Homo sapiens: one gene and its partners. The protein of the gene in region 2 interacts with the protein of the main gene of each other region in a biochemical or structural test. Each region holds a gene or a part of one and is shown on either strand. Other genes may lie near its edges. The genes, in order: RIMS1, UNC13B, DOC2A and SPTBN2.

What was found.
Region 1: the proteins of UNC13B (region 2) and RIMS1 form a complex in vitro, tested with the Homo sapiens proteins (one study listed by BioGRID).
Region 3: the proteins of UNC13B (region 2) and DOC2A form a complex in vitro, tested with the Homo sapiens proteins (2 studies listed by BioGRID).
Region 4: the proteins of UNC13B (region 2) and SPTBN2 form a complex in vitro, tested with the Homo sapiens proteins (one study listed by BioGRID).

What each region holds. Positions count from the first base shown.
Region 1 is NC_000006.12:72,176,531-72,183,552, reverse strand, and holds part of RIMS1 (regulating synaptic membrane exocytosis protein 1), read right to left. Parts: intron 3,979-7,022; coding exon 3,638-3,978; intron 1,270-3,637; coding exon 404-1,269; intron 1-403. UniProt on the Homo sapiens protein: Rab effector involved in exocytosis. May act as scaffold protein that regulates neurotransmitter release at the active zone.
Region 2 is NC_000009.12:35,157,007-35,165,019, reverse strand, and holds the start of UNC13B (protein unc-13 homolog B), read right to left. Parts: upstream 3,012-8,013; 5' UTR 2,737-3,011; coding exon 2,715-2,736; intron 1-2,714. UniProt on the Homo sapiens protein: Plays a role in vesicle maturation during exocytosis as a target of the diacylglycerol second messenger pathway.
Region 3 is NC_000016.10:30,008,009-30,014,840, reverse strand, and holds the start of DOC2A (double C2-like domain-containing protein alpha), read left to right. Parts: upstream 1-3,813; 5' UTR 3,814-3,938; intron 3,939-4,605; 5' UTR 4,606-4,618; coding exon 4,619-4,880; intron 4,881-5,283; coding exon 5,284-5,363; intron 5,364-5,564; coding exon 5,565-5,639; intron 5,640-5,735; coding exon 5,736-5,845; intron 5,846-6,832. UniProt on the Homo sapiens protein: Calcium sensor which most probably regulates fusion of vesicles with membranes. Binds calcium and phospholipids. May be involved in calcium dependent neurotransmitter release through the interaction with UNC13A.
Region 4 is NC_000011.10:66,691,207-66,698,228, forward strand, and holds part of SPTBN2 (spectrin beta chain, non-erythrocytic 2), read right to left. Parts: intron 6,963-7,022; coding exon of another isoform or gene 6,639-6,962; exon of another isoform or gene 5,798-6,638; coding exon of another isoform or gene 5,692-5,797; exon of another isoform or gene 5,376-5,691; intron 5,335-5,375; coding exon 5,071-5,334; intron 3,158-5,070; coding exon 2,933-3,157; intron 2,656-2,932; coding exon 2,566-2,655; intron 2,241-2,565; coding exon 1,980-2,240; intron 1,895-1,979; coding exon 1,764-1,894; intron 1,535-1,763; coding exon 1,330-1,534; intron 453-1,329; coding exon 78-452; intron 1-77. UniProt on the Homo sapiens protein: Probably plays an important role in neuronal membrane skeleton.

The DNA of each region.
Region 1 (7,022 bases), on a different chromosome or scaffold from region 2:
ATATTACGTAACTGATGTGGTTTTTTTTTAATGTCTACTTCCTTTATAAGGCATAATTTTCATTTTCTAGCAAACAAATTGTTTTTCACAGAATAATAAATCCACTCTAAAATAATATCTTAAAAATATTAGACTGCATACCAAATTTACCAGAATGACAGAATGCAAAATCACCAAGAACTTTTGTAGCCTAAGTTTGGAGCTTGTTGTGTTTTAAAATCCCACAAATCAATCAATAAAATTAAATTAATAAAAATAAGACCTTCCACTGGCGGTAACGCTATCTTATCTGTGAGCATTCCCAGCCTCAATGCTGAACCCAGCAACTAGCCTAGCACCTGCACCTCTGCCCACGCCTCTTCACTTGGCTGAAGTCCCCGCACGGCCGGCGCCGCCCCCTTACCTTTCTCGCTGACGCTCTCGCTCTCCAGCTCCACGTCCTCGCAGCTGGTGTACTCGGGCGTCGACACGCCCTCCTCCTCAGAGCTGCTCACCGACATCTGCCGCTTCTTGCCGCCTCTCTTGGACCGGTGCGGCTTGGGCGGGGACGGCCGCACCGACTCGGACTGGTCTGAGCTCAAAGAGTCGTTCCGCAGCATGGTCTCCACCTTCTCGCGCTTGGCCTTCCGCATGAGGACCGCCGAGCTGGGGTCCAGGCGGCTCTGCTTCCTGAGGGGCTCCTGGGCTTTGAGCTCCGGGGCTTCTGCGGGAACCGGCCCATGTCTGGGCGCCGGCGGGCTGTGGTTCGTTAGCTGCTTGGCGCCCGGCGCCCTGGTCTCCGCAGTTCTCTCAGCCGAGTAAGCCCGCGGCGAGTCCGGCGGCGAGGCCCTGGCTGCCGCCGGCGCGCGTTTGCCGGCCTTGCCCTCCGGCAGCGCCGCGCCCGCCTCGGTGCGCGGGAGCGCCACGTCGCTGTGGCGCCGCTCGTGCCTGGCGCGGGACACCCGGGCGTGCATGCGCATCTGCTGCTCCTCAGGCGGCGGTTTCACCGGGTACCGAGCTAGGTTCGGGTCGCTGCGGTACCTGGTCTGATAATCCTCCTCTTTTCTTTGCTTTTCCTCATCCGCCGCTTTGCCCTCATCCCGTTTTTCCGGCGTGTCTGGGTAATCCTGTGATCGCCCTTTCTCAAGCCTTCGGCTTTCCCGCCTTTCTTTGCGCTCCCGTTCTTCGACGGCCCCCTCCACGGGCTGCGCTGAGGTCTTTGGCACGCGTTTCCGCTCGCTCTTCAGGGCTCCTTTGCCATTCTGCTCGGAAAGCCCTGGGGTCTTCTTTCTATGATATACAAAGGAACGTCAAGGAGAGCAATTTATAAAGACTAGACATAAAAAACATGTTTTCTTCTCATTCCAGTCTTAAATCATTTCAGTTACAATAATTAGTTATAGGGATTTGGATCTGAAGGTGGAACTGTAAGGGTGTTGGAATTTTACAAGGTAAGGGATCTAATGGGAACACATATTAATTATTACCAAATATAGTTTTCATAAGAGTGTCATGCTTGTACTACATTTAGCAGCTCATTGAAGCATAGTTGCTCTTGTTAGAAGTTTACATTGAATCAATTTACTTTTCTTGAAATGCTGAAAAATACTTACCTTGCAAGGTTCATGTGAGGATTAGAGACACCATCTGTGAAGATGTTTTATGAAAGGGTAGAGTGTCATGCAAATGGAAGGAGTTCTCCAGTGTCTCTGATTCTTTGCTCTACTAATTATACTTTTTCTCATCTCTACCTTTAATTTTCTGTTTCTAACTCCTTGACAGTACAAAATACGGTCAAGAATTCTTCAGTAATTTAAAACAAATAAACAGTGTCTCTTTCAATCTTGCTTCTCCCTGAAGTTGCCCAGCTCTTTACACTGGCCACCTCTCTTCCTGCTTCTGTACTTCCCAATTCCTCATTGCTTTCCTGTGAATTTATATCATTAGTAAAGTTATTTGTCCCTATCAATCTTCTTCAAATTTTAACTAAAAAGTCAGAACAAAAAGTATCTATTCAGCCCTTGTTCTTGAAATTTTTATAGTTTTTCACTATATGTCAAAAACAGAACTCTTTTCTCTTTAGAAACTTTACAGCTCCAAATTCTCTATCTTATTTAAAGATATCATCTTCCAACCAGTTCCAAACTGCAGCTTCAGTATTTTTGTCTCTTCTTCTCCCACAACAATTTGTCACCAAATGCTATTAATTCTACGTTCCCTGAGATATCTCTGGTGTCCTTTCTATCCTTTCTCCAAATAGCTTAGTAACACTCATTCTCTTGTACTGCCCTCTTATACGCTGTGTAGCTCCCCTACAACTCCTGAGTATCTTACAAAGCTTAATTGAGAAGTCACTTCCTCTTTCCTAGGGCTCTCAAAATACTATACATATTGCCTAGCTTTGATCAAATTAGCATCCTTGTTAATTACCTAGGTGTCTGTCTTCCCTAGAATAGTGTGTGGTCTCTTCCCTAGGATTTGTCAGAAAAGGGACCATGTATGTTCTAATCATCTTTATGCCCTCTGGTTCCTGGCACAGTGTTTATCTGTAGTAAATACACAATGACTACTGGCTTGAATAATAGCTACATTCACTGAAAGCCTACTATGTGCCAGCTTGGGAACACATGTTCTCTTTTAATACCTGCCACAACCCTGCAAGTGAGTTTTTACTGCCTATTGTGGCAGAGCCAGGACTAGAATCCAGACCTATTTAACTTTGAAGTCCTTGATCTTTTACTGTATGGGCTTTGCTTGAAAAGGGGTTCAAAAGCTTTCCTTGGAGCCTCCTTTCTCCAAGTAATGGTTACACATACAAAAACAATAAGCCCAGTCTAGGTGCTAACAAAAGTCCTGGCCCCAAAATCATGAGCCTCATGAAGATAAGGGCTCTGTCTTCTTTGTCAACACTTTTTCCCAGTGCATAGCTTCATGTTTGCCCATGAATACATTTTTGAATGAATCAATCAAAGTAAATAATCTGATCATATTCGTCCCTGTTTAAATATTCAGTGGCTTCCCTTTCACCTACAATAAAAGCTATAAAATGTAACCTGTCCCTTCACCACCTCACCAGCCTTTTCTCCTCCACATTGCCTCTGCTACTTGCACTGTAGCCAGCAGCTATCCTTTAGGAGGCCCTCACGTTGGGCTTGTTCCTTCAGGCCATGTGCCTGTGCAGATACCTGGAGCACCCATCCTTCCCTTCTCCTGGTTAATTTCAAAGTCACTCTTTAGAGCTCAGCATAAAAGAAATACCCTTAAAGAAGGCTTCTCTGATGTGTCCACATACTTTCTGATAGGTCAGATTCCCCCATCACATCCTCTCAGAGCACACTTTTAATTAAAGGGCTAGGTTTATAAGTGAAACATGATCTAAGAGCTTTTCTGAGTTCATCATTGGAAGTTGGTAGCTCAGCTGGGTGACTTAGTTCATGTTTACATCTGTGCATGATATGAAAGAAATGCTTTCAACAAAGGTCTCCTAAGGAATACATTCTAGAGATAGACAACGCCCCTCAGGCCTTTTGTTTTTCCATGTGGGGCCTGAGAAGTACTACTTCCACATATTCCTCGTAATAGAAGTTAAATTCTTGAAAACGGCTTTGCTCTCCTAGCAAAATCTTGCCTTTTGCTTACAGGGTGAAAGAACTATTACCTCTCTCTAGGAGGTTCACTTCTAGACCTGGATGAAGCCTGCTTCTGTTCAGGCCCCAAGGCTTGCTGCGAGGGCTCAGCCCCTTTGCTCCTGTCTGGTGGTGCGCTGGGAGGAGCAGCATCCTGGGAGGAGGCAGCTGCTGTGCTTAGGGGTGTCTGAGACCGCGATCGCTCTTGGAGTCGTGCTTTCTTTTCTCTTGGTACCTCAGAGCCAGCACCTGTAGCTGTATCACTCAGGGTTCCATCCTGACTTGTCTGCTGAGGGCCACTTCCAAAGAACCATGCCCCAGATTTGGTTAAGATTTCTTGTTGCTTTCGACATAAATTGCATACCCACATAACCTATTTGAAGAAGAAAGAACAATATAAATTTTTATGCCCTCTTGGAAATAATTTTTCAGTATCTTAAAATATATTTAAGAAAAAAAGAACAGTATTCATTTTCATATTTATCCTTGCAAATTTCTTGTGAAAATGGTCCTCCCACAAGTCACAGTCAAATATATGAATGCCTAGACAGGGACTTGTCTGAGACTAGAGAGCCTCTCAGCAGCCAGAGTAGAGGTTTTTTCTCAGCATTTCTGATTTGATTATTCTGAATTTCCTTTTACCATATATCTGTCATATTTTTTATAATTGACTCTGGAGTGTTAGCAAAAATGTTCTAAGCAAGGTAGTTAACTGATTAGAAAAATGTTACCAGGAAAAAAAAAGAAAAATGTTACCAGGAACTACAGAATCAGTACGTAAATACATAAACCTCAGTACTTGCAAGTATTTTTAAAAAGTCTGTCTTTTCAAAAATCACCCACAATTAAAGGCAATATTAAAAATATTCACATAGAAGAAACATACAAAGTAAGCACACAAAAAAGGTCAATGTGTATATTTTCTCTAGTTTCTTAGTGATAAACTAACCTTAAGCTTATTTATGCTATAAAATATAATTTTCCATGCACATATTTACTAAAGCAATAAATGTGACTCTGAGTTTATTCATATGTGACCACTCCAATGTAATGTTCCCCAAGGAGAGCTATTGGGGAACCATCATTTAGCAACATATCCACTGATAAATTATAAGATGTAGCACCACTTAAAATAAACTATATGTCTGTTCTCCATTTGATGACCTTTAAAATGAATGTAATAATGAGGACGATTATCATAATAAAAAATAATAATAGCAGCAATGACTAGCTGTCACAGGGCAAAGATAGGTGCTAACAGCTCCATGAGCTGTCTTTTCAAATATCCTCAGTACCTCTGTTTCTTTGTGCTGTGACTTTACATCGCTGCCTCAGTTACATGCCTCCAAAAGCACTTCAGGTGTTTTGTGTTTGTTTCTACTTCAGAAACTACCTCCACAGGAAAAACTAATTACCAAACTCTAGGCTTCCTTTTCACAAATACTGACTCAATCAACATGTACTCAAAAATATTGCATCAGGATGAATAAATCGTAGAAACATTAACTGATAAGTAATAGAAAATAGTAAAAGAAGCATTGTTTAGTAGGTCAAATGAAGAAAATGAACTACTGAAAATATTCAGATAAATGGGGAAAAACTGTAACTGTAGCCATAGAATAAGATGAAGCTAAAATAAGAATAAGAAAAAGACAGGAAAAAAGTAATACACTTTTTTAAAAGGAAAATACTGCAGGTGAATTAAGAACTGCTTTCCAGGAAAGAAAACTCAAATGAATTATAATATAGGAAAAATTAAGACTGAAGAGAAATACTTGCTATAAAAAATTTAAAATTCATGAAGGTTAATTGATTTATTTAGACTTTCCCAGTCATAAAATGAAGTGTACTAGGTTCAAAAAAGCAGTTAGGTATAATGTCTACACAAAGTATTATAACCAATATTACGGAATTCTCATCTACTAAGATGTCAAACAAGATGAACAATTCATTGCATAAACCTATATCAAAATAAGGATTTTATGGAAAGTAACTTCAATTTAAGTGCTAGCCAAATAAGGGTATATTTTACAAAATCTATTACTGAGTAGGTCCCTCAGAAGTCCTGATTGTTTGAACATGGACATATTAAGGGTAACATTAAAAGGTGCAGTACTCCAGGGCCAGGACCTTCATGAACAGTCAGTGACACTGAGTCTCTTCTGCCCAGAACCCTGAGTGGGGACAGGACGTGTGTGGTGGGAAGGTTTTGGTTGGTTGGTTTGTTTTTTGTCTCTTTAGCTGACAGACCATAATAAGAAAGTTTGAAATCATGTAATTCAACAAGACTGGTATGAAATTTTGACTATTTTACATCAAATAAGAAGACGTTAAATTTGTATTTCTCAGACTAATAGTAAGCAACTTATTATCATCATTTAAAGTAGGTTCTTTTCAGCCAGGTGTGGTGGCTGACACCTGTAATCCCAGCACTTTGGGAGGCTGAGGGGAGCAGATCTTCTGAGGTCAGGAGTTCGAGATCAGTCAGGCCAACATGGTGAAATCCCGTCTCTACTAAAAATACAAAACTTAGCCGGGCATGGTGGTGCATGCCTATAATCCCAGCTACTTGGGAGGCTGAGGCAGAAGAATCACTTGAACCCGGAAGGCAGAGGTTTCAGTGAGCTGAGATCCCGCCACTGTTCTCCAGCCTGGACGATAGAGCGAGACTCCATCTCAAAATAAATAATAAGAAATAAAATAAAATCAAGTAGGTTCTTTTCTACAGAAATATCAAGGTATACTTAGGATAAATATGCAGTTTTTAAAAAACCAGAAAACACAAATTTACAATTACAAAGTTTCTAAAATTGAATAAAGCTAAATAAAGAAGCAGAAAGGAGCACAATAATACTGATGAAGGGTAAAGGATACTCTTCATTTTACATTTGAATATTCTCTAGAAATTATTATCACAATCTTATTTTGATTGCTTCACATTTTTAAACGTTACAAAAAATGGGTCAATGAGAACTAACTGCCAGATTTGGGCATGTTCCAAATTTTGAGTATGTGCAGAACTGCTACCAGATCAATTAAAAGAAACACAATTTATTATTATTAAATAAGTTGAATTTTACAATTTAATTTCATTTCCAGTTTATTCAAAAGGTTACAATTAGTGACTATGTCAAAACAGCATAGGCATTTTAAATTCTATTCTTAAAATACTTTGTATTCATTTAAGTCTGTGATGCTTTGTTAATTTTTTTGTTTTTAACATTTAGTAAAATACTGTATAATTCCAAACTTTTTCTATGTCTTATTTCCTTGTACACCACAACATTTTTAAATTTGTATTTTTAAATTAACTATAAGTGTAGTCAATCCATCCTCCAAACTGAAAGTAAAATTAACCATGGCAATGTTAAAATATTTATTTTTATCAAAATATCACCTCCCAGTCTCTATTTTCAG
Region 2 (8,013 bases):
CTTCTTAGAAGGAAATACCACAGCTGAACACAAAATTCCAGATCTGATCTGACCAGTGCAATTACTTCCTTTGTCTGGGTCACCATAAGCACCACAATACAAGACCAGTTGCAGGCAGCATATGATTCATTTCCAAACTAGTGGCACTGTTCAGACCACAAGTGCTCCGAGGATTTAAAGGAAAAAGAGATCACTGTGGACTGGGGACCTGAAGAAGTTTTCAACAACAAAAAAAGTAGACTGTTAGCTGGGAAAGTAAGAATACATTTTAGATAGGCAGAAAATATGGAACGAGTATTTCAGGGGGCACAAGTGCAGAACAGAGCAGAGGCAGGAATAAACAAAGTTAGTGCTAGAGCAAAGTCTGCATAAGGATAGGCAAGAATAGAAGGCCACAAGTCTGGAGTCAGAGTATTGAGAGCCTTAAACCTGCAGGCAATAAGGCATGATTAAAGGGCAAGACAAAATAACTGACTTCTTGAATGAAATGTTTAGGAATGATTAATTCAATACCAGTTTGCCAATTTCTACATCAAGTTAACTACTTTTTGAACTCTGCATAGGAAGTTTCTAATTGATTCTACTCCAAGATGAATTGAAATTGAGTTGTAATAAATATCACTATATAGACTGCTTTCAGAATACAACATTCCTACTGCCAAAATACAACGCAAGGAATGTCATTTTAGAAAGATGTATTTTGTGCTGGGTGCAGTGGATTATGCCTCTAATCCCAGCACTTTGGAAGGCCAAGGCAGATGGATCACTTGAGGTCAGAAGTTCAAGACCAGCCTAGCCAACACAGTGAAACTCTGTCTCTACAAAAAATACAAAAATTAGCCGGGCCTGGTGGTTCACTCCTGTAATTCCAGCTGCTCGGGAGGCTGAGGCATGAGAATCACTTGAACCCAGGAGGTGGAGGTTGCAGTGAGCCAAGATCGCAGCACTGCACTCCAGCCTGGGTGACAGAATGAGACTCTGTCTCAAAAAAAGAAAAAGAAATAAAAATAAAGATGTATTTCAATTCATTTCTGTAAGTTTTCCCAAAATGAATACTTTGCCATTCAATATGAATATCTGCATATAAGGTACCTGTTTGTTTCAGTATTTAAAATCTTCTAGATCTCTATTCAAAAAGACAATGGCCTGCTGATCTCGTTTCTCCAGATTCAAAAAAGAAGAAACTTCACTAAAGTAACATTAAAAAGGAAAGAAGTTAGCTAAATAGCAGAATTTCTAGACAATGAAACCTGCCTGCTATTAAAACAAATGAAAACACCAGTAGTTATATAAATTCAGTTAAATAGGAATTTCTGATTCACGAGTGCTCCTGCCTAAAGAGTCTTTCATAAGGACCAGCTCTGTAATACAGTGTGGCCGTAGAGAATTAAACTGTCCAAGAGACACAGCAAAGTCCAACCTCTCCCAAATCCTGCTACTCAGCAGCAGGGATCTAAAGGAATAAATAGATTCCCAGCTGCTGAGAGAAAATGTCTTACTAAAAGCAAAGCAAAATTCTCATTAATGAAAAATCAACCATGAAAGAAGAAAAACTGTATATCTCATAATCCCGGGAAATGGCCAAATCCATTTTGGTTAATGCAGATTCAACAAAATAGTGGAAGAGAACAGAGCAAAGCAGTTTCATCTGCCAGTAGCTGGGGGAAACATCGTTATTGGAGAAATCACAAACAACAACAATGCTTCTAATCTGTAGAGCCAAAAGAAATATGAACTCTCCAGTAAAAGATATCAGGTAAAGGCTCTAGTTGATAAATGCTCTCTCATTCATAATCAAGACACATCAGATATGATAGGCTGTAACCTGAATTTCCCGAGATCAAATTCAATGGCTAATCCAAACCCTGTGTTTTCCTGATCAGATAATCTCTCTGAAGTCACAGTACTTGCATTCATTCAAAACCAGCATTAAGCTTCTACTACGTCAGACACCAGGAATACAAAAACTAATAAGAAACAGTCTCTACCCACATAGAACTTAGTTCGCGTACCATGCCTCATCTTAAACCCCAAAGCTCTTGCTTTAAGATATCTTCTTAGATGGGTCAAGTGTCCTCAGGGGAAAAGCAATAATGGCCCTTCACCTTGAGTTACTGTGAGGCAAGCTAAAATAAAAATAAAAATAAATCATACCTCTTATCCTCAAAAGCAGTCACCACATCCTCCCAAGTGGAACAGAAGAATAATCTTAGCCTATACTACCGGTTAGTGTTCAGGGAAGTGGCAGGGGACAAGACAAGCAATAGAAGGGATGTGACAGCTGTACCACTAACGCATTCAAAGTGTGATAAAAAGAACCTGCTACTAAGCATACTGTAGCGTTACGGTGCGAGGAGGAGGAAAAGAATGAGAGGCTGCCCACCATTCACAGGCACCAACCATCCGCGGTCTTCTAACTCGTCCACTCTCACTAGAGAACCCCAGTCACTGTTTAATAGGATCTGAGCCTGCAGTCCAACAACATTGTCACATGGCTACCAGAATGGAGAGCTAATCGTCCCTTGCAGGAGCTTGGGGGAAAACAAGAAAGTGGAAAGAACTCAAGTGATTGTTAAGTGATTGCCAAAATAATAGACCCCCAAAGCACGGACGGGATGTAAAGTTTGGGTGAGACGGTCACCGGACGTCCACTGGAAGGGTGCGGGGACCTCTACGCCGACACCCCGCCTCCCCGCCTCAGTCCGCGCACTCACCGCGCACGCAGAGCAGTGACATGGCCGAGGATCGGGCAAGCCTCTGCCGCGCCCCAGCCGCGCCGGACCGCTCCCTCTTTCCTCTCAGCAGGTGCCGCGACTGCTCTCGTTACCGGCCCCACGGGTCTGGCAGCTCCTCATGGTCCCGGTCGCAGGTAGCGTCCCGCCGCTGCCTCGGACCCGCCCCAAATCTCACCGTCTGAGCGAACTCCGGGTAGCGGTGAGTACCGGCCGGCAGGCTGGGGACTGGGCGCGGCACAGCGACGCCATCGCTGGGAGGTAGGAGCTGCCGGGACTCCCTCCCGTCATTCCACCCGGGATCCGCGCGAGCGCCTGGGCGGAGCCAACCCGTGGTGCCCCGCCCCCCAGCCAATTAACTCACGCCCAGTCCACCGACCCCGCCCCCCCCCGCGAGCACGTAGGAGGCGGGGTCCCCTTCCTCCTTTCTTTCTTGCGATCCTGAAGGAAGCTCCGCCCACTAATCAGGCTTACTGCAGGGAGCAAGGGGTTGACCCTCAGTTGTGTGACGCGAGAATGGAAGCCCTCTGTTCCTCCTGCATGAGCGGGGCTTCCACCCAAGAACAGATTCTTTTCATTGAAGGATTTCCACTGGACTTTCTTAGAGTCTAGCGGTCATAGCTGACAGCCTGTAATTTTAAGTTAACGAAGTCGCACCGCACAGCAAAGTTAAGTTTTGTTTAGCAACTAGGGCAAAAGACAAAACTGAGTGGGCATAAAGTATGTCTGGAGACCTCAGTTCTTATCTAGACCGTTTTTTATGCTCATCATTGTATCTCCAATGTCTGGAATAGTGCCTAGTGTATGGTAATCAGTCCGTAAATATTTACTGAATGAAGGATGGTAACCACGGAGGGATTGTGAGTGGAGATACCTCTGATCTTTGACAAATCTCCTATCCATGCTTGGTACCAACATGAGCTAACTCCATGGCTCAAACCAACAGGACAATTTGCTAAGGTCTAGGAGCACCCCCTCCAGAGAATCCCTGATCTCCCAAAATTTGGTCGAGATCTAAAGTTCATTTTGTTGTACAACTCCCTCTATTATTATTATTATTATTATTATTATTATTATTATTTTGGAGTTTTACTTGCTTCCAACAAGGAAGGCAAGTTTTCCTGCTTCCATGACGAGGGAAGGCAGGTAACTCTTTTATGGAGTTTGAGCTCACTTCCAACAGGGAAGATGAGGGGTTTTTTTCCTACTTCTGGGATGGTAGACAGCCGTTTTCAGCCTGAGACGCACCCCTAGGTAAGTAGCTGAATAGGGATTTTTGTCTTGGCTAAAGTTAACAACCAGCTGGTCTTAATTTCTGCTTACCATTAGAGTGCTCAGTGATCATATTGTTGGGTTTTTTTTTATTTTGTTTGTCTTTTTCCCATTGACCAACTCTACTTCACTTGGTCAAATCCAAGTGAGAATTCCAAATTATGGGTAACAAGGCCTATCTAATTTGAGTAAAATTCCTCACAGCTGCAAAAGAAAAAACAAACAGAAAACAAAAAACCATGTATTTGGTTTCTGTGTTTGCTTCCTGGTCTTAAAAATTAAACTGTTCTTAGGCCGGGCGCGGTGGCTCACACCTGTAATCCTAGCACTTTGGGAGGCCGAGGCGGGCGGATCACGAGGTCAGGAGTTCAAGGCCAGCCTGGCCAACATAGTGAAACCCTGTCTCTACTGAAAATACAAAAAAAATTAGCCGGGCATGGTGGCGGGTGCCTGTAATCCCAGCTACTCGGGAGGCTGAGGCAGGAGAATTGCTTGAACCAGGAGGCGCAGGTTGCAGTGAGTGGAGATCGAGCCATTGCACTCCAGCCTGAGCTACAGTGTGAGACTCTGTCTCAAATTAAAAAAAAAAAAAAAAAAAATTCAATTGTTCTTTTGTTTACTTTTCTTCCACCCTATACCTCCTTCACCCTTTGCCATCTGCATTACCAAAAAATCGAGAGAAGGCTTCTAATGACTTGAACCTCTTTAAAGAATTTAGGCCGGGCGCCATGGTTCACGCCTGTAATCCCAGCACTTTGGGAGGCCGAGGTGGGCGGATCACGAGGTCAGGAGTTCGAGACTCAGCCTCGCCAACATGATGAAACCCTGTCTCGACTAAAGATACAAAAAAAGTTAGCCAGGCATGGTGGCACGTGCCTGTAATCCCAGCTACTCAGGAGGCAGAGGCAGGAGAATCACTTGAACCTGGGAGGCGGAGGTTGCAGTGAGCTGAGATCGTGCCATTGCACTCCAGCCTGGGTGACAGGGCAAGACTCTATCTCAAAAAAAAAAAAAGAATTTAGAACAAAGGTGCCACTCACCCCCTTTTGGGGTGTTCTCTTGGCTTTGTGGGATTTCAAGAGTCATGGGCAGATTCTTCTTAGGTCTAAAGCTCTGTTTTCCTGTATTGCATGACCTGACCTTTTTGGCTTTGGGTGCCAGAGATGACCTTGCACTGTGAGAGGATTTGACCTTGGTGTGTATATTGTTGGAAAAGAGCTACAAAGTTACGGGTGGCTGAGCACAGTTTATAGGAAGTGGTTTTGGCTGTTTCCTTTTTTTTTTTTTTTTTTTTTTTTAATTTTCTCTCCTAGGAAGTCGTTGTTTAAGAATCCTAATTCTAGGCCAGGTGCGGTGGTTCACACCTGTAATCCCAGCACTTTGGGAGGCTGAGGCGGGCGGACCACTTGACCCCACAAGTTCAAGATTAGCCGGGCCTGGTGGTGTGCACCTGTAATCCCAGCTATTCGAAGGCTGAGGTAGGGCAATTGCTTGAACCAGGGAGGTGGAAGTTGCACTGTGCCGAGATCGTGCCACTGCACTCAGCCTGGGCGACAGAGCGAGACTCCATCTCAAAAAAAAAAAAAAATCCTAATTCTAGTTTGGAGATCCGTTCTGAAGGATCCTTTATATTGCTTTTTCTCCCAACATTAATCTCAATTCCGTTTGTCTGTGTGCATTTGCATGAGGAACTGAACTGTTGCTTTCATAGGTATATCAGAGACTGAGTTTTCTCAGCTCCAAAAAGAAAGGGCATTTGCCCCTCCCAACTGAAAGGTGCCCCTGAGTGACTGGGGACCTTGTGGGAGTGTCTGAAAGGTTGACCCCGAACGATGTGCAGTGGTCCTGCAGGGAAATCCCCAACAAAAATTAATTTAGGCCAGGTGCGGTCACACACACATAATCCTAGCATTTCAGGAGGCCGAGGCAGGCAGATCACTTGAGGTCATGAGTTCAAGACCAAGCCTGACAAACATAGCAAAACCGCATCTCTACTAATAATACAAAAATTAGCCAGGTGTAGTGGTGCGTGCCTGTAACCCCAGTTGCTTAGGAGACTGAGACGTAAGAATTGCCCGAACCCAGAAAGTGGAGGTTGCAGTGAACCAAGATTATGCCACTGCACTCCAGCCGGGGCAACAGAGTAAGACCTTGTCTCAAAAAAATATATATATATATATTTAATTTAAAAACTGGCTCATCCAGGAAACACATTGAAGGGCTGATCACCCAGTGTTGTGAGCCCTCTCAGAAGTCATAAACCTCTGGAGAGAGAAACTGAGACATGTAAGAGGGTGGAAACCATTCAGTGGTGGCACATTGTGGAGTCCTGCCCACAAGCAGCACGTGATGATCCACCACACAGAAACTCTAAGCCACAGCTCAGTTTCTCCTTTTAAGAAAAAAAGAAGTGGAAAACAAATAATCTAAGAATGAGAAGAAAACAAGGAGAATGACCCTCTTTTGAGCACTCTGTAGGTTTTATGGCACCTCTACTGCCAAAGTTTATGTAAAATGGAAAAAATATGGTCTTTGTGCACATTTACATTAAGAAAAAAGAGCCCTAAGGTCGACCTACTAATTATAGAGTTCCTAAGACCTCTTTTCTCTATTCTTTTCTGCCTGCTCTAAATCTGCCATTATTTTCTGTTAAGATAAAAACCACAGTTTAGATCCAACAAGTTCTTTTTGCAAACCGGTAAATTTGAATTTATCTCATAGCTAAAAGTTCTGAAGTAAAAGCTATAGGATGTGTGTGTGTGTGTATTTAAAAGGCTTTTATAATTTCTATAATTTTATGTTTAATTGGCCATTAAATCTGTTTCAATTTCCGTCTAGCACACCAGACTTTTTCTCTCCACACTTTATAATGTAAATTTTGCTGTTTGGAGTTCACCTGAGTTGTTTTCTTTAATATGCAAATTTAAGGCTATTTAGCTGACAACTGCCTAGGGTTGTGAAACAGGTTATCAAGAATCTGAAAGTAGCGGGGAGGGAGGAGGGGAAAAAAAGAATCTGAAAGCCTAAGGAAAAAAAACGTTTTTTATGAATCTATAAGAGGTACCTCTAGGCCAGGTGCAGTGGTTCACGCCTGTAATCCCAACACTCTGGGAGGCCGAGGTGGGCAGATCACCTAAGGTCAAGAGTTCGAGACCAGCCTGGACAACATGGTGAAACCTGTCTCTACTAAAAATACAAAAATAGCCAGGCGTGGTGGCACATGCCTGTAGTCCCAGCTACTCGGGAGGCCGAAGCAGAAGTATCACTTGAACCCAGCGGGTAGAAGTTGCAGTGAGCTGAGATCATGCCATTGCACTCCAGCCTGGGTGACAAGAGAAAAACTCTGTCTCAAAAAAAAAAAAAAAAAGATGTACCTCTATCAGCATGCCTAATGTGTCTATGTATTTATGTGTTGTGTACACAATGTTTCACTACTGAAAATATATAAAAGAGCTCTAATTAATTGGCGTAAGAAAATAAAAGTGCTTAAATCAAACACTTATTCAGGAAAAAATAAAATAGTCAAATGCTTTTTCAAGTTTACATAACTTAAGTAAAATCTTTACTAATGTTGATGAAAAAAATCAAACTCTGTAAAATATTTGAAGAGATTTATTCTAAGCCAAATATGAGTAACCATGGCCCATGACACAGCCCTCAGGAGGTCTTGAGAACATGAGCCCCAGGTAGTTGGGGTGCAGCTTGGTTTTATAAATTTTTGGGAGGCATGAGACATCAATCAAATACATTTAAGAAATACATTGGTTTGGTCCAGAAAGACGGAACAACTCAAAGGGGGGCTTCCAGACTATAGGTAAATTTAAACATTTTCTGGTTGAAAATTGGTTGAGTTTGTCTAAAGACCAGGGATCATAGAAAGGAAATATTTAGGTTAAGAAAAAACACTGTGGAGACCAAGGTTCTTTTGAAGTCTTATAGTGGCTGCCCTTAGAGAAAATAGATGACAAATATTTCCAATTCAGATCTTCAAAGGGTGCTAGACTTTTAG
Region 3 (6,832 bases), on a different chromosome or scaffold from region 2:
CTCCTGCCTCAGCCTCCCAAGATTACAGGTGCCCGCCAACATGCCCAGCTAATTTTTGTAATTTTAATAGAGACAGCGTTTCAGCATGTTGGCTAGGCTGATCTTGAACTCCTGACCTCGTGATCCTCCCGCCTCGGCCTCCCAAATTGCGGGGATTACAGGTGTAAGCCACCATGCCCAGCCTGCACTTTGCTTTTTTTTTCTTTGAGATGGAGTCTCGTTCTGTCGCCCAGGCTGGAGTGCAGTGGCGCAATCTCGGCTCACTGCAAGCTCTACCTCCTGGGTTCATGCCATTCTCCTGCCTCAGCCTCCCAAGCAGCTGGGACTACAGTTGCCCGCCTCCACGCCCAGCTAATTTTTTGTATTTTTAGTAGAGATGGGGTTTCACCGTGTTAGACAAGATGGTCTCGATCTCCTGACCTCGTGATCCACCCGCCTTGGCCTCCCAAAATGCTGGGATTACAGGCGTGAGCCATGGCGCCTGGCCTGCACTTGGCTTTTCTAAGTTAAAATGAAACTGTGAAATGATTCTAGGGCCAGGCACAGTGGCGCACGCCTGTAATCCCAGGACTTTGGGAGGCCGAAGCGGGAGGATTGCTTGAGTCCAGGAATTTGAGACCAGCTTGGGCAAAGTAGTGAGACCTTGTATATTTAAAAAAAAAAAAAAAGATGATTCTAAACAAGAGCAAAACAGCCTCTTGTGGCTGCACCCTATTTCACTGCATGGAATTACATCATGACTGATTTAACTGGTCCCCTGCTTCTGGGTATCTCAGTTGTTTCCAGTCTTTTGGAACGTGCTACATTTAAGAATTTTGAACTTCATGGCCAGGCGCGGTGGCTCACAGCTGTAATCCCAGCACTTTGGGAGACCGAAGCAGGCGGATCATGAGGTCAGGAGTTCAAGACCAGCGGGGCTAAGATGGTGAAACACCGTCTCTACTAAAAATACAAAAACTTAGCCAAGTGTGGGGCGTGCGCCCCTGTAATCCCAGCTACTTGGGAGGCTGAGGCAGGAGAATTGCTTGAACCCAGGAGGCAGAGGTTGCGGTGAGCCAAGATCGCACCATTGCACTCCAGCCTGGGCAACAAGAGTGAAAGTCTGTCTCAAAAAAAAAAAAAGAAAAAAAGAATTTGAACTTCTATTATTTGGCTTATGGGTTGGCATATCTGTAAGATAAAATCCTAAAAGTGGAATTTCTGGGTCTAAGGATTTTTTTTTTTTTTTTTTTTTTTTGAGACAGGGTCTCACTCTGTTACCCAGGCTGGAGTGCAGTGGAGTGATTATAGCTTACTGCAGCCTTGACCTTCTGGGCTCAAGAGATCCTCCCACCATCACGAGGTCAGGAGATCGAGACCATCTTGGCTAAGAAGGTGAAACCCCATCTCTATTAAAAATACAAAAAAATTAGTCAGGCGTGGAGGCGGGCACCTGTAGTCCCAGCTACCCGGGAGGCTGAGGCAGGAGAATGGCATGAACCTGGGAGGTGGAGCTTGCAGTGAGCCGAGATCACGCCACTGCACTCCAGCCTGGGCGACAGAGCGAGACTCCATCTCAAAAAAAAAAAAAAGAAAAGAAAAAAAAAGAAGAGAGATCCTCCCACCTCAGCCTCTTGAGTAGCTGGGACCACAGGCACACACCACTATGCCTGGATTTTTTTTTTTTTTTTTTTTTTTTTTTTGTAGAGACAGGGCCTCACCATGTTGCCCAGGCTGGTCTTGAACTTCTGAGCTCAAGGGATCAGTCCGTCTCAGCTTCCCCCCAGCCCAGACACTTTGGCTTTGCCCATTTTATGGGTAATAAGTGATATCTCAGGGTTTTTTGTTTGTTTGTTTGTTTGTTTGTTTTGAGACTGAGTTTTGCTCTTACAGCCCAGGCTGGAGTGCAGTGGCACGATCTCAGCTCACTGCAACCTCCGCCTCCCGGGTTCAAGCGATCCTCCTGCCTCAGCCTCCCAAGACACATACCACCACGCCCGGCATTTTTAGCAGAGATGGGGTTTCACCATGTTGGCCAGGCTAGTCTCAAACTCCTGACCTCAGGTGATCCACCCACCTCGGCCTCCCAAAGCGCTGGGATTACAGGCGTGAGCCACTGCGCCCCGCCCCCTCAGTGTTGTTGACTTTACATTTCTCTTACTTTTTTTTTTTTTTTTTTTTAAGAGACTGTGTCTCACTGTGTTGCCCAGGCTGGCTTCACTCAAGCGATCCTCTCGCCGCAGTCCCTGGAGTAGCTAGGATTACAGGCACCCGCCACCACTCTCGGCCCCATTTCTCTTATTTAAAAAAAAAAAAATTGCCGTGAAATACGCATATCGAAATGTACCATCTTCACCATTTTTAAGGGTAAGATTAGGTGGTGTTAGGTATGTTCAGTTGTCGTGCAACCAGATTGCTGTTTTAAATAACAGCACTTAGAGATGCCGACTTCGTGCCAGGCCCAGTTTGGGACATTAGGGACTCCCAGATGAATCAGCCGCTCCAGTGGAACTCCCTGCTGGTGGGGGAGGCACTGGCGAAGCGGTGCTGAGCCGAGTCCTGACGGCGCTGGAGCTGAGGGGCAGTGCGGGATGCCCCAGGAAGGCTCCTAGGAAGAGGGGACCCACGGTGACTTCCTAAGGAAGCGCGGTTCCCAGGTAGAGGAGCGCATGTGAGCCAAGATCCCTAGGCCTGAGCCGTCTAGGTGTGTCCCAGGAACTGCAGGAAACGGTTGGGTGAGTCAGTGGTGGGCAGCGAGGGTGATAAGCCCCTTCGTGTCTTCGGGATGGTAAGTTTGGGGCACAGGTGAGTGAAGACCGAAGGCCAGGGGTGGACTGACACTCCGTGGCAGGCGCAGGGCCGGGCAGGGGGGCGGCTTGGGGGTGGCAAGGTTTGGGTGAGAAATGGCAGCCCATGGGGAACTACCGCAGGGCTCTGAGACCTTCAGAGCCAAGCCCCGACGCCCCTTCCCACCTGCGGGGCAGAACTGGGGATGGCAGGGGGGAGGGTGGTTCCCAAAGGAGATACCATCCCTGGTAAGGGGACATGGGCCCCTGGGAGTTGGGTTGGGCCACAAGGAGAGAGGCCTGAACGGCCAAAGGGAGGGGGCGTGGGGGAAGCCGCAGCATCAGACCTCTGCCTCCTCCCTCAGATCGTGAGGCTCCCCAGCCTGGCTCGGGAGACCCCGAGATCCCCGGCCGGTGACAGCAGGCGACCCCCTGCTCCTGTCAACCTGTGGGTCCCTACGGACGTGGGGAAGGGAGGAGGGAGGCCCCAGCTCCCTGCGGGGGAGGGGCGTGAAGACGCGCGGGGGTGGGGGGAGATGAGCCGGCGTCGCCATGACAACGAGGCCGGTGGTCCGGCCTTGGGGACCCGGGAGGGAGGGAGGCGCCGTGGCCGCGCGCGCGGGCGGGGGCGGGGGGCCAGGTCTCCCAGGAGTAGTTGGGGAACACCCGGCGATTCTGGCGGCTGCTTCCTGGTGGCGCAGGGAGCCCGCGTGTTTGCGAGTGCGTGTGTGTGCGAAGTTCTCCGGGTAAGTGTGCCAGCGCGCGCCTGGGTGTGTGCAAGGGTGTGAGCGTGCACACGTGGGCACGGGCGTGTGCGCGCGGGGGTGCCCGGTTGGATGTGTGCACACGAGTGTGTGCCGGTCCGCGTGCCCCTGCGTGAGTGTGCGCGCGCGAGCACACGTGTGTGTGCGCGCTCGCGTGCGCTCCCGAGCGGGCCCCGGGTGGGAGTCCGAGATCCCGCCCCCTCCCCAGCCCCAGCGCCCCTCCCCGTCCCCCGCCGCCGCGCCGGCTGCATCCTCGCCTCCACCTCGCTCACCCCCTCCTCCCCGCACTTTCTCGGCGCTCCCTCCCTCTCGGCTCGCACAGCTCGACTCCGCGCTCTCCTCGCCGGCCGCCGCCGCCCAGCCTGCGCCCGCCGTCCCCCCAGTGCCTGGGCACCTGTTGGAGGCAGAGGCAGGTGCAGGGGGCTGGGCAGGCCGGGGGCGTGAGGGTGCGGGGAAGCGTGCCAGCCTGTGTGCGCTACGGGGGTGTTCGGCTCTCCTGCGGCTGCAATTTCTGGCTCCCCTGAGGAGCCAGAGGTGGCATCTGAGGCTGGGGTCTCCACCGTGGGCTGTGGTGAGCGAGCGGGGGAACCAGGCAGGCAGACAGGTCCTGGGGCTGAATGAGGGGACAGTGGGCAGTTGGAGCCTAGAGGGGTGGGTGACACCCTGACTAGACCAGCGCCTGGTGCAGAGGAGGACAGAGCCTCCGAGAAACAGAGGCGGGGCCCTGCAGGGCCCCTTGGGGGACAGGCAGGCTCAGGAGCAGAGGGGAGCCCCGGAGGAGAGGAAGGAGCTGGCAAGATGATACAGGGACAACCTAGAAGTGGGTGGGTGAGGACGGGGTGGTGCAACCTCGACTTCTGCAAGGAGTGGGTTGGCAGCCCAGCCCCTGTGGAGTCAGCTTGGGGTCTGCAGGGCCCAGGCCTCCCACCTGCCACCGGCTGGCACACACCACCCTCTCCCTCGACACCTAGGAAGGGAGGCCAGTGAGGGCCCCACAGACCGAGGAGGCCGTCGCCTGGCCCTCAGCCAGGATGGCTAGGTATGATGGGCTCACTGGCTCACACGCCCTCTCCTAGCCAGGGGTGCTGCATGAGGGGCCGCAGGGGCGATCGCATGACCATCAACATCCAGGAGCACATGGCCATCAACGTGTGCCCCGGGCCCATCCGGCCCATCCGCCAGATCTCTGACTACTTCCCCCGGGGACCAGGACCTGAAGGGGGCGGCGGGGGCGGCGGGGAGGCCCCCGCCCATCTGGTCCCCCTGGCTCTGGCCCCCCCTGCAGCCCTCCTTGGGGCCACCACGCCTGAGGATGGTGCGGAGGTGGACAGCTATGACTCGGATGATGCCAGTGAGTCTGGGGGCTTGGAGGCCCCATGTGCTGGTGGGGGTCTCCAGGCTTGCCGTGGTGGGGGGAGAGGGGGATGGGCCCTGCTGGCTGTGCATGTAGGTAGGGGAGGAGGGCAGTGGGGGGGTGGCAGGGACGGCCACCACAGCTGCAGTCAGCGTGGAGATTACAGCTTCAGCAAGGCTCAATATTCAGTATTTCTGCTGAGACACTCCACCACCCACACAGCCCCAGTTGCGGCCGAGCCAGGGACCCAGACGCACACACGCATGGGCCCACTCAGCCTCTTGCACTCACACTCGCGGGCTGGCAAGAGAGAGAGACACACAGAGCCAGTGCCCACCTGCTGGCCTCTCGCACACACCTGTCTCCATACCGACCCATGCTGCCTTTCCTCTCTCTCCAGCCGCCCTAGGCACGCTGGAGTTTGACCTTCTCTACGACCGGGCCTCCTGCACTCTGCACTGTAGCATCCTCAGGGCCAAGGTGGGCACTCCCTGCCACCCAAGCCCGGGCCCGGTTTGCGTGCAGCCCCCAGAGGGGGCCCATTCCTCCTTCCCTTCCCAGGCCTGCTCCTTCGTCCTGCCCTTGCCCCCTCCTTCTGGGCTCCTCCAGGGTCCAGCTCTACAAGAGGGATGGAGAGAGGTGCCGGGAGCCTCTAGCCCTCTCCCCTGCCCTCCTCTCCAGGGCCTCAAGCCCATGGATTTCAATGGCCTCGCCGACCCCTACGTCAAGCTGCACTTGCTGCCTGGAGCCTGTAAGGTAACAGCCTCCTCTCGCCCCGCCCGGCCCAGCCCATGACTCCAGCCTGTGGGGCTGGAGGACAGGTATTGAGAACCTTTCATCCCCACATCCCAGGCCAATAAGCTAAAAACGAAGACTCAGAGGAACACACTGAATCCCGTGTGGAATGAGGACCTGACTTACAGCGGGATCACAGATGACGACATCACGCACAAGGTGCTCAGGTGAGGGCCCCCCTCCCCACCACCCAGCAGCAGCTCGGGGACAGCTGACATTGTAACCGCTGGTTGGTTGATCTATGTCCCATTAAGCCCGTACCTCTCTGATGCTCAAGAACCATCAGCGGCTCCCTAGCCCCTTTGGCAGCAGGCCAAAATTCTTCCCTGCCATTCCTGCCCCTCAATATCTCCTGCCTGCCAGGTGTGGTGGCTCACACCTGTAATCCCAGCACTTTGGGAGGCCGAGGTGGGCGGATCACTTGAGGTCAGGAGTTCAAGACCAGCCTGGCCAACTTGGTGAAACCCCCGTCTCTACTAAAAATACAAAAATTAGCCGGGCGTGGTGGCATGTACCTGTAAATCCCAGCTACTCGAGAGGCTGAGGCAGGAGGATCACTTGAACCCGGGAGGCAGAGGTTGCAGTGAGCCGAGATCGCACCACTGCACTCCAGCCTGGGTGATGGAGACTCCATCTCAAAAACAAAACAAAAGTATCTTCTGCCCCTCAAACAGAGGACTCCCTTCTTCCAACTGGCCAGTTCCACAACTCCTGAACTTTTCCTGTTGTTTTCTATCTGGAAAGCTCCTTCCTGCCAGCCTAAATTCCGCTCATCTGAGGTTCAGTCCAAGCTCTGCCCCCTCCCAAAAACGTTCCTGGGTTGCCGAGACCCCTTCTCAGAGCCCTTGGCTTAAGCCAGACCTCTGCAGCTTTGGTCTGCCCCTTCCGTGCCTTGAGTTCCCCTAAAATCTCTTAAGGAGTGAAGTCTTCAGGGACAGGGAACTTGCTCCGTCATCCTAGGAGATGGAGATGTAGGGAGAGTACTCCCTCAAGTCAGGTGGCGGGCAGCGAAACCCAGGCTCTGGAGAGACCTCTGCCTTTGTGCTTGGATTTGCAGCTGGGACCTTCCCTGATGGTCAGGGCTGTGCAGCAGAGAGGCCACCTTGGTTTCAGCTATTCGGGTGGAATGGAGGGGAGGCCAGAGGCCAAAACCA
Region 4 (7,022 bases), on a different chromosome or scaffold from region 2:
GCTCCTGGGAACTCTCCCCGGCATTTCCCCCATGGCCTCCTCTAAGCCTCCCCCACCTCCTCATGCTTGGGTCAGACCTGGGGGCTGAGGGCCTGAATGTCATGCTCGTAGGCACAGTGTCGGCGCTGCAGGGCCTCGGCAGCGTTGAGGTCGCGGCCAGTCCCGTCCGGAAGCTGCTGCTGCTTGTGCTGCACCCGCGCCAGGGCTTGGCGTGCCCCGTGCAGGAAGCGCTGCAGCTCGTACGCCGCGGCCAGCACCTGACCCCGTGTGTCCAGCAGCTCAAGCAGGTCAGCCCAGGCCTCGTTGAGACTGTCCTTCCACTCGGCCACGGTGGCCCGTGCAGCATGGCCCCCAGCAATGAGCCCATTGGCCAGCGCATTGGCGCTATCTACGCGCTCCTGACCGATGGTGCTTGTGTCCCGGGAGAACTCTCGGAATTTGTCTCGGAGCATCTGGTAGAGGAAGCAGATGGACAGACCATGCCGTGATGTTAGGGGATGTGGTCCCTGCCTGATGGAGCGAGTCCTCCACTCCAAACTCAGAACCCACCTCTCCCCGCTGCATGGGGGCCGGGACAGGTTTCTTCCCTGTGGTTAAGGAGTAGGTGCAGCTGCTTCCCACTGACCCTGTATTTGACAGACTCCCTCCACCCCCAGCAAAGGCGTTTCAAGGTGCTTGGGACCCTTAGGCTTCAGACAAGGATACCCTAACTATGGTCCATATTTCTGTACGACTGAGGGTCCAAGCCCCCAAACTGTCGGGGGGGTGGATCATACTCCGTTTTGTTGAATTCTGTTGAAAAGTGTGAGTGATAATTTCCTGTTTGCCCTTGTCTCAGCTCAGCTTCATGTCCCCTTTCTGTACAATTCTTCAAATTGTGTGTGTGTGTATGTATTTAGAGATGATAGGGTCTTGCTCTGGAGTGCACTAGCGCAATCACTGCAGTGTCGACCTCCCAGGCTCAAGAGATCCTCCCACCTCAGCCTCCTAAGTAGTTGGGCCTACAGGCATGCACGGCTGTGCCTGGCTAATAAAAAAAAATTTTTTTTGTAGAGATGGGGGGTCTCACTATGTTGCCCAGGCTGGTCTTGAACTCCTGGACTCAAGCAATCCTCCCATCTCAGCCTCCCAAGGTGCTAGGATTACAGGTGTGAGCCTATGCCCGGCCTCTTCAAATCATATACCTCAAAACCAGGAGGACAGTGCCTGCTCAGCCTGGTCTTGCCCCTTAGCCCCTCAGTGCTCTGCCTGGGACTAGGTCCTAGTCTCCCTGTGGGTCCTCCACTCTTCCCACGGTTGATCTGAGCTGGGTGCCCTCCCTACACTCACAGTCACATGCTCGTAGTCCTGGCCCAGCTCGTGGGAGGCCGCCACCACCTCGCGCTCCTGGATCCACTGTTCCAGGTCATCCAGCTCGCGGCGGAGCTGGCACAGCCGGAGGTGCTCCTGCAGGCGCTCCCGCCGCTCTCCAGCCAGCTCCTTCAGGCCGGCATACAGCTTGTCCACCTGGGCTTGGCGGATGGATATCCGAGTGCTGCAAGAAGAGTGAGGGAGGCACTGTGGGACTTAGGGGTGTAGCTCTGACCTCCGGTCTGTTCTGTGGAGCCCTGTCCCTCTGAGTCTCCCAACAGCTCGCCCACCCTGTGTTCCAGCTTTCTAGAAGGCTCCGTGCACACAGCACTGAAGGCTCCACATTCCCTGCACCTTCCTGTTCCTGCAGCCGGCTCCACCCCCAGGCTGGGCCGGGCTGCCGCTGCACCCACCTCTCTGGGTGCTCGTGGTCAATCATGTCCTGGCTGCTGGCCGCCAGCTGGTGGATGGTCTGCGCGTAGTCGGCCAGGGCTTGCTCCAGCACCTGGTGCTTCTTCACCTCTGCCTGGGCACTCAGCTCATCCTGGGGGAAGGGACAGTGGCATCCAGCATCAGGTCAGGGGAGGGCAGAACTGGTCACATACACTGGGCTCTGTCCTGGCCCTCACCTTGGCCTTCTCCTGGCCCATCATGTGTAATTCCTGCTCGCCCATCCAGGCCTCCGCCTCGGCGGCATCGCGGTAGAACTGCTGGGCTCGCAGGGCATCCTCCAGTCGCTTCCCTCGAAGTTCCAGCTCGTGGCCCAGGCGTTTCCACATTTCCTGCAGCTCAGCCAGCTCTGGACCTGCTGCTGCTGCACCTAGAGCACGCTGCCGCTCCCTCAGGTCCGCGATCCGGGGCTCATGGCCCTGAATCTCTTTCTGCAGGGTCTGCCCATGGCCACAGAAGAGAAAATGCTGAAAGTCCTGCCCCAGCCCCACGTGCTCCCGGAGACCACCCTTCACCCCTGTGCCTCTCTCCTTCCTGGGTCCTCTGCTCCCTCTCCTAGCCTGGGGGTGCGATGGTAACACCCGTCAGCCGCCCAGCCCCCACTATCTCCTACTGAGAGGACCCACCCTCCCAAGGTGAGGAAAGACAGCCACTGAAGTCCAGGGTTACACTCAGCATCGAGGGGGGCCTGGTCTTAAGAAAAAACACGTCCAAGTCTGGGCAGGCTCCTGGGAACTTCTCTTTTGCCTTCAGCCTCTGCCTCACCTGGTTTTTCTTCATGAGAAGCTGGACGCTGGGCAGGTCCTTGCCATGCTCCATGGAGCTGGCCATGGGCAGCCGCTCTGTCACCCACAACTGGAAGAGGAAGAGGGGGTCAGTGGAGGCCCAGAGGGCAAGGCAAGCAGCAGGGACTGATTAGTGGGAGTGGGGACACCTGGGGCTACCGCCCTGTGTGTGGGGAACAGTCATCTCTGGTTCTGGGAGGCATCTCCAAGTCTCCCTATAGGGGAGATGGTCAATGCCAAAGAGAAGAGGGAATAGAGCCCTGCTGGCATCTCCCTGGCATCCAGGAGGGAGGCTGGAGAACCACATGGCTGGGGGCAGCTTGCCGTCCTTGGCCCCAGTGACTCACAATCTCATCTTCCACATCGCGGTGGAACTGGTGCTGCTCGCGAGAAGCCTGCAGGCGCCGGCAGCGTTCCCGCATGGGCTGGCACAAGGCCCTGAACTTCTCCTCCACGGCCCTCGAGGTTCTCTCCACCTCCCCTGCACCCTGGTCCTCCTGGGCCAGTGCTTTGGCCTGGGCCTGGATTGCCTCCACCTCCTTCTCTCTCACAGCCATCTCCCATTCCAGCATCTGCAAACCGCCAGGAGGAAGGACATGTTAGCTCTGCATTTCCGCCTTCATGCCCAGCAGAGACACCAACCAGTCTCTATCCAGCCCACTGTGGCTGCTCATCACTGCAGCTCACCCAGGGAGAGCATCCCCTCATGGGCTGGATCAGTGGATCTCGAACTTTATATGCACAAGAATCCAAGGGCAGGGGTTGAAAAAATCCCTATTGGGTACTGTGCTCACTACATGGGTGATGGGTTCAATTACACCCCAAACTTCAGCATCACACAATATAACTTATAACAAACCTGCACCCACACCCGCGAATCTAAAAGATTGAAATTAAAAAATCCAGGGTAGTGTGATAACTGTGCCCATTATCAATTCATTGTCTCTCCATCCCCAATCCATCGTGGCCCTGCTTTGAGACACTGGAACTGGCCCCTGGAAACATTCCTCCTTTGCCAGCAGGCACAATCTAGGCCTTGTCAGCAGAGGGCGCTGGAGGGACACCACAATGCCTAGCAGATGTGGGGCATTCCACGGTTCCAAGGTGCTTTTCTTCCTCCTACAGCAAAACTGTCCACAGTGCGCAAGAGATCCGGTGGCTCTTACTCTCTGGCAAGTTTTGCTGCACTCTAGTGGCCACTTCCTGCTGGCCAGCCTTGGCTTGCTGGCTTCAGACATGCTCTGGCCTGTGATACCCCAGCAAATTTCCAGGCCATTCAGTGGGCCTCCGCCCTCTCCAAGGAGGTCTGAGACTCAGCCATCTTGCTCCTTCCTGGGGGACTCCTCAACCCCAGAGGTGTCAGCTGCTCCCTACACTTCCCATTCTGCATTCTTCAGAGCAGGGACCAGCAAGTCCAGCCCACTGCCTAGCCTTATAAAGTTTTTATTGGACCACAGCTGCACCCCTTTTTAAAAAATTTTTTGAGACAAGTCTCGCTCTGCCACCCAGGCTGCAGTGCAGTGGCACGATCACAGCCCACTGCAGCCTCGACTCTCCAGGCTCAAACAATCTTCTCACCTCAGCCTCCTGAGTAGCTGGGACTACAGGCACACACCACCACCACGCCCAGCTAATTTTTGTAGTTTTTGTAGAGATGGGGTTTTGCCATGTTGCCCAGGCTAGTCTCAAAACTCCTGGACTCAAGTGATCCGGCCACCTCGGCCTCCCAAAGTGTTGGGATTACATGTGTGAGCCACCACACCTGGCCATACCCCTTATTTTACATATAATCCGCAGCTGCTTTTCCTTACAAGGGCAGAGTTGAAGGGCTGTGACATAGACCTTACGACCCATGAAGCCCCAAAAATTTACTATCTGGTGCTTTACTGAAAAAAGTTTTCTGACCCCTGCTATAGAGTTCTCTTTACCACCTTTTACTAATTTATACTTCTGTTTTTTTTTTTGAGACAGAGGCTTGCCCAGGCTGGAGTGCGATGGCATGATCACGGCTCACTGCAACCTCTGTCTCCTGGGTTCAAGCTATCCTCCTCCCTCAGCCCTCAGCCTCCCAAGTAGCTGGGATAACAGGCGTGCGCCACCACGCCTGGCTAATTTTTGTATTTTTAGTAGAGACGGGGTTTCACCATGTTGGCCAGGCTGGTCTTGAACTCCTGACCTCAAGCGACCTGCCTGCCTTGGCCTCCCAAAGTGCTGAGATTACAGGCATGAGCCACTGTGCCTGGCCTAATTAATATTTCTTTTTACTGAAGTTCTCATCGTCAAATTATTAGGGGGTCTGTCTCCTAACTCTAACCCTGACTGCGACATATCCCTAGAGATTCTGATACTGGCTGCCCAAAGAAATGACTCTGGGAAATGCTAGTGAAGGTGTTATCTGCCAGGCCTCAGCTGGCCTCCCAAATCTTGAAAGCTGCAGCCCCTTTCTTCTGCTGTTCACCATCCCCATCAAAGGCCCACAGCACACCTGCTGCTTCTTGAGCAGGATGTTGACGCTGGTGAGGTCCTTGCCGTAGTCATCCGAGTGCAGCTGGGCCTGCAGGCTCTCCAGCCAGCTCTCCAGGGCACAGCAGCTCTGGGCAAACAGCTCAGCTCGGTTGGCATCAAAGAGGCTGCGGGCCTTGGCTTGGGTGGTGGTCTCCAGCTCGTCCCAGCGCCTGTGCAGGTCTCTCAGCTTCTCCGACACCAGGGCTTTCAGCTCTGGCTTCTCAAGGGTGAGCTCTCGCCCTTCCTGGAAGGCAGGACAGAAAATGTCAAAGTGCCCAAATTAGCCTGAACTTTAGAGGCTGAGAGCAGACCAGGGGCCTTACGGGCAGTAGAGACCTGAAGTGTGGGCAATAATTCCAAGTCCTTGTGTGTTCTTATCGACACACTCTTCACGGAGGTTTAAAATCCCTTCTAAACTGCTGTTCCCTCACTGCTGATGAACCCCACTCCTCCTTCAAGACCCAGCTCAAACAGCATTTCAACGAGGAAGCCCTTGCACTCTCTTTAGTTTGGGTTCCTTGGTGCCTGTGGTTTCTGGCACCACACTGCACATTGACTTGAGTTATTTGCCATCATTTTGTATTTCTCAACTCATTACTCTTCACTTCAGTGATAGCAAGTTGAGTCCCACCTGGTTTCCCCACTTCCAGCTTTTCTGCTTGAGGATTTCTGTGTCTGGGGTGGTGAGGGAAGTGTGCTCTCTTGAACTGTGTGGAAGGCAAATTGGAAGAGCCACAGAGTTAACAAGCCCAGAAGCAGCCCTCAACCAGTGACAGACAGGGAGCTGATGGATAAACACACAGCATCCTTGTGCCGTGGCTGTGAGAGTGCTGTGTTCTGTGTTCCATCTACACCCCCGCAGAATGCCCCATGAGGGTTGGGCTCCTGATGCCCATGGGGGTAACTGGCATGACTTCTGTCCCTTCTCATGGCTCCACCCCCCTACTGATCATTCCCGGGGACACCTCCCTAGAATCACTGTTTCAGGGTCTGCTTCTAGGGGAACACAAACCCAGACACTGCCTTCAGGCCATTTTGCAGGTGGCTGTGGCTGTCAGGATGGAGAGCATCAAAGGCTAGCACTGCCTGGGTAGCTTCACAACCCTGAGCACAATCAACACTTGGAAGCACACGCATGTGGTGGTCAGGACTTCCCGGGGCTTCTCTCCCACCTCTTCTTCCATGGGGCCCTGCACACATTCTGTGCTGCTGCTGGACTCACTCACCCCCTTGCTCCCAAACAGGCACTGCCTACCACTGGTTTTCTGTTTGGTTTTCTCTACCTGGAAACATCTTTTCCTCCATATCTCCACTTGTCCAAATTCTACTCATCCTCCATGGACTGCCCTGGATGTTGCTGCTTCTAGAATTTCCATATCTCCTCTCTCCTTATTCCCCAGGCTTCAACGGGGCCACTCTCACAGCACTCATCAGATTCTGCTCTGGATTCGATTTAGCTACCTGCATATATGCCTCATATCCTGGCTACAGTGTTGTTCCTTCAGGGTGGAGCCTACCATGGGATCCCTTTCGGACCCCACGCAGGGCCTAATACAATGCTTTGGATATAGTAGCACCAAGTAAATATTTGCTGAACGAATGGAAACACTTGAAAGCACACTGGTCTCCTTTTGTCCCAACCATCATGCCCTTGAGAAAAGGAAAGTGTCTTTTCGTAGACCCTGCAGTGCCTCGCAGACTGTTGAGCACGTACCATGTTCTGTAGGGATACTTGCTGAGCAGATATAAAGCTTTATCTGTCCTTGACTCTTGAGGAACAGCTGGGTGGGAGACCAAGAACCAGGGACGGCAAGACTCGAAAATAAGGATTGGCAGACTACATACAGCCCACGGGGTAATCTGGCCCACTGCCTGTTTTTACAAATAAAGTTTTATTGGGAAACAGCCATGTTCATTCATTCACTTATTCTC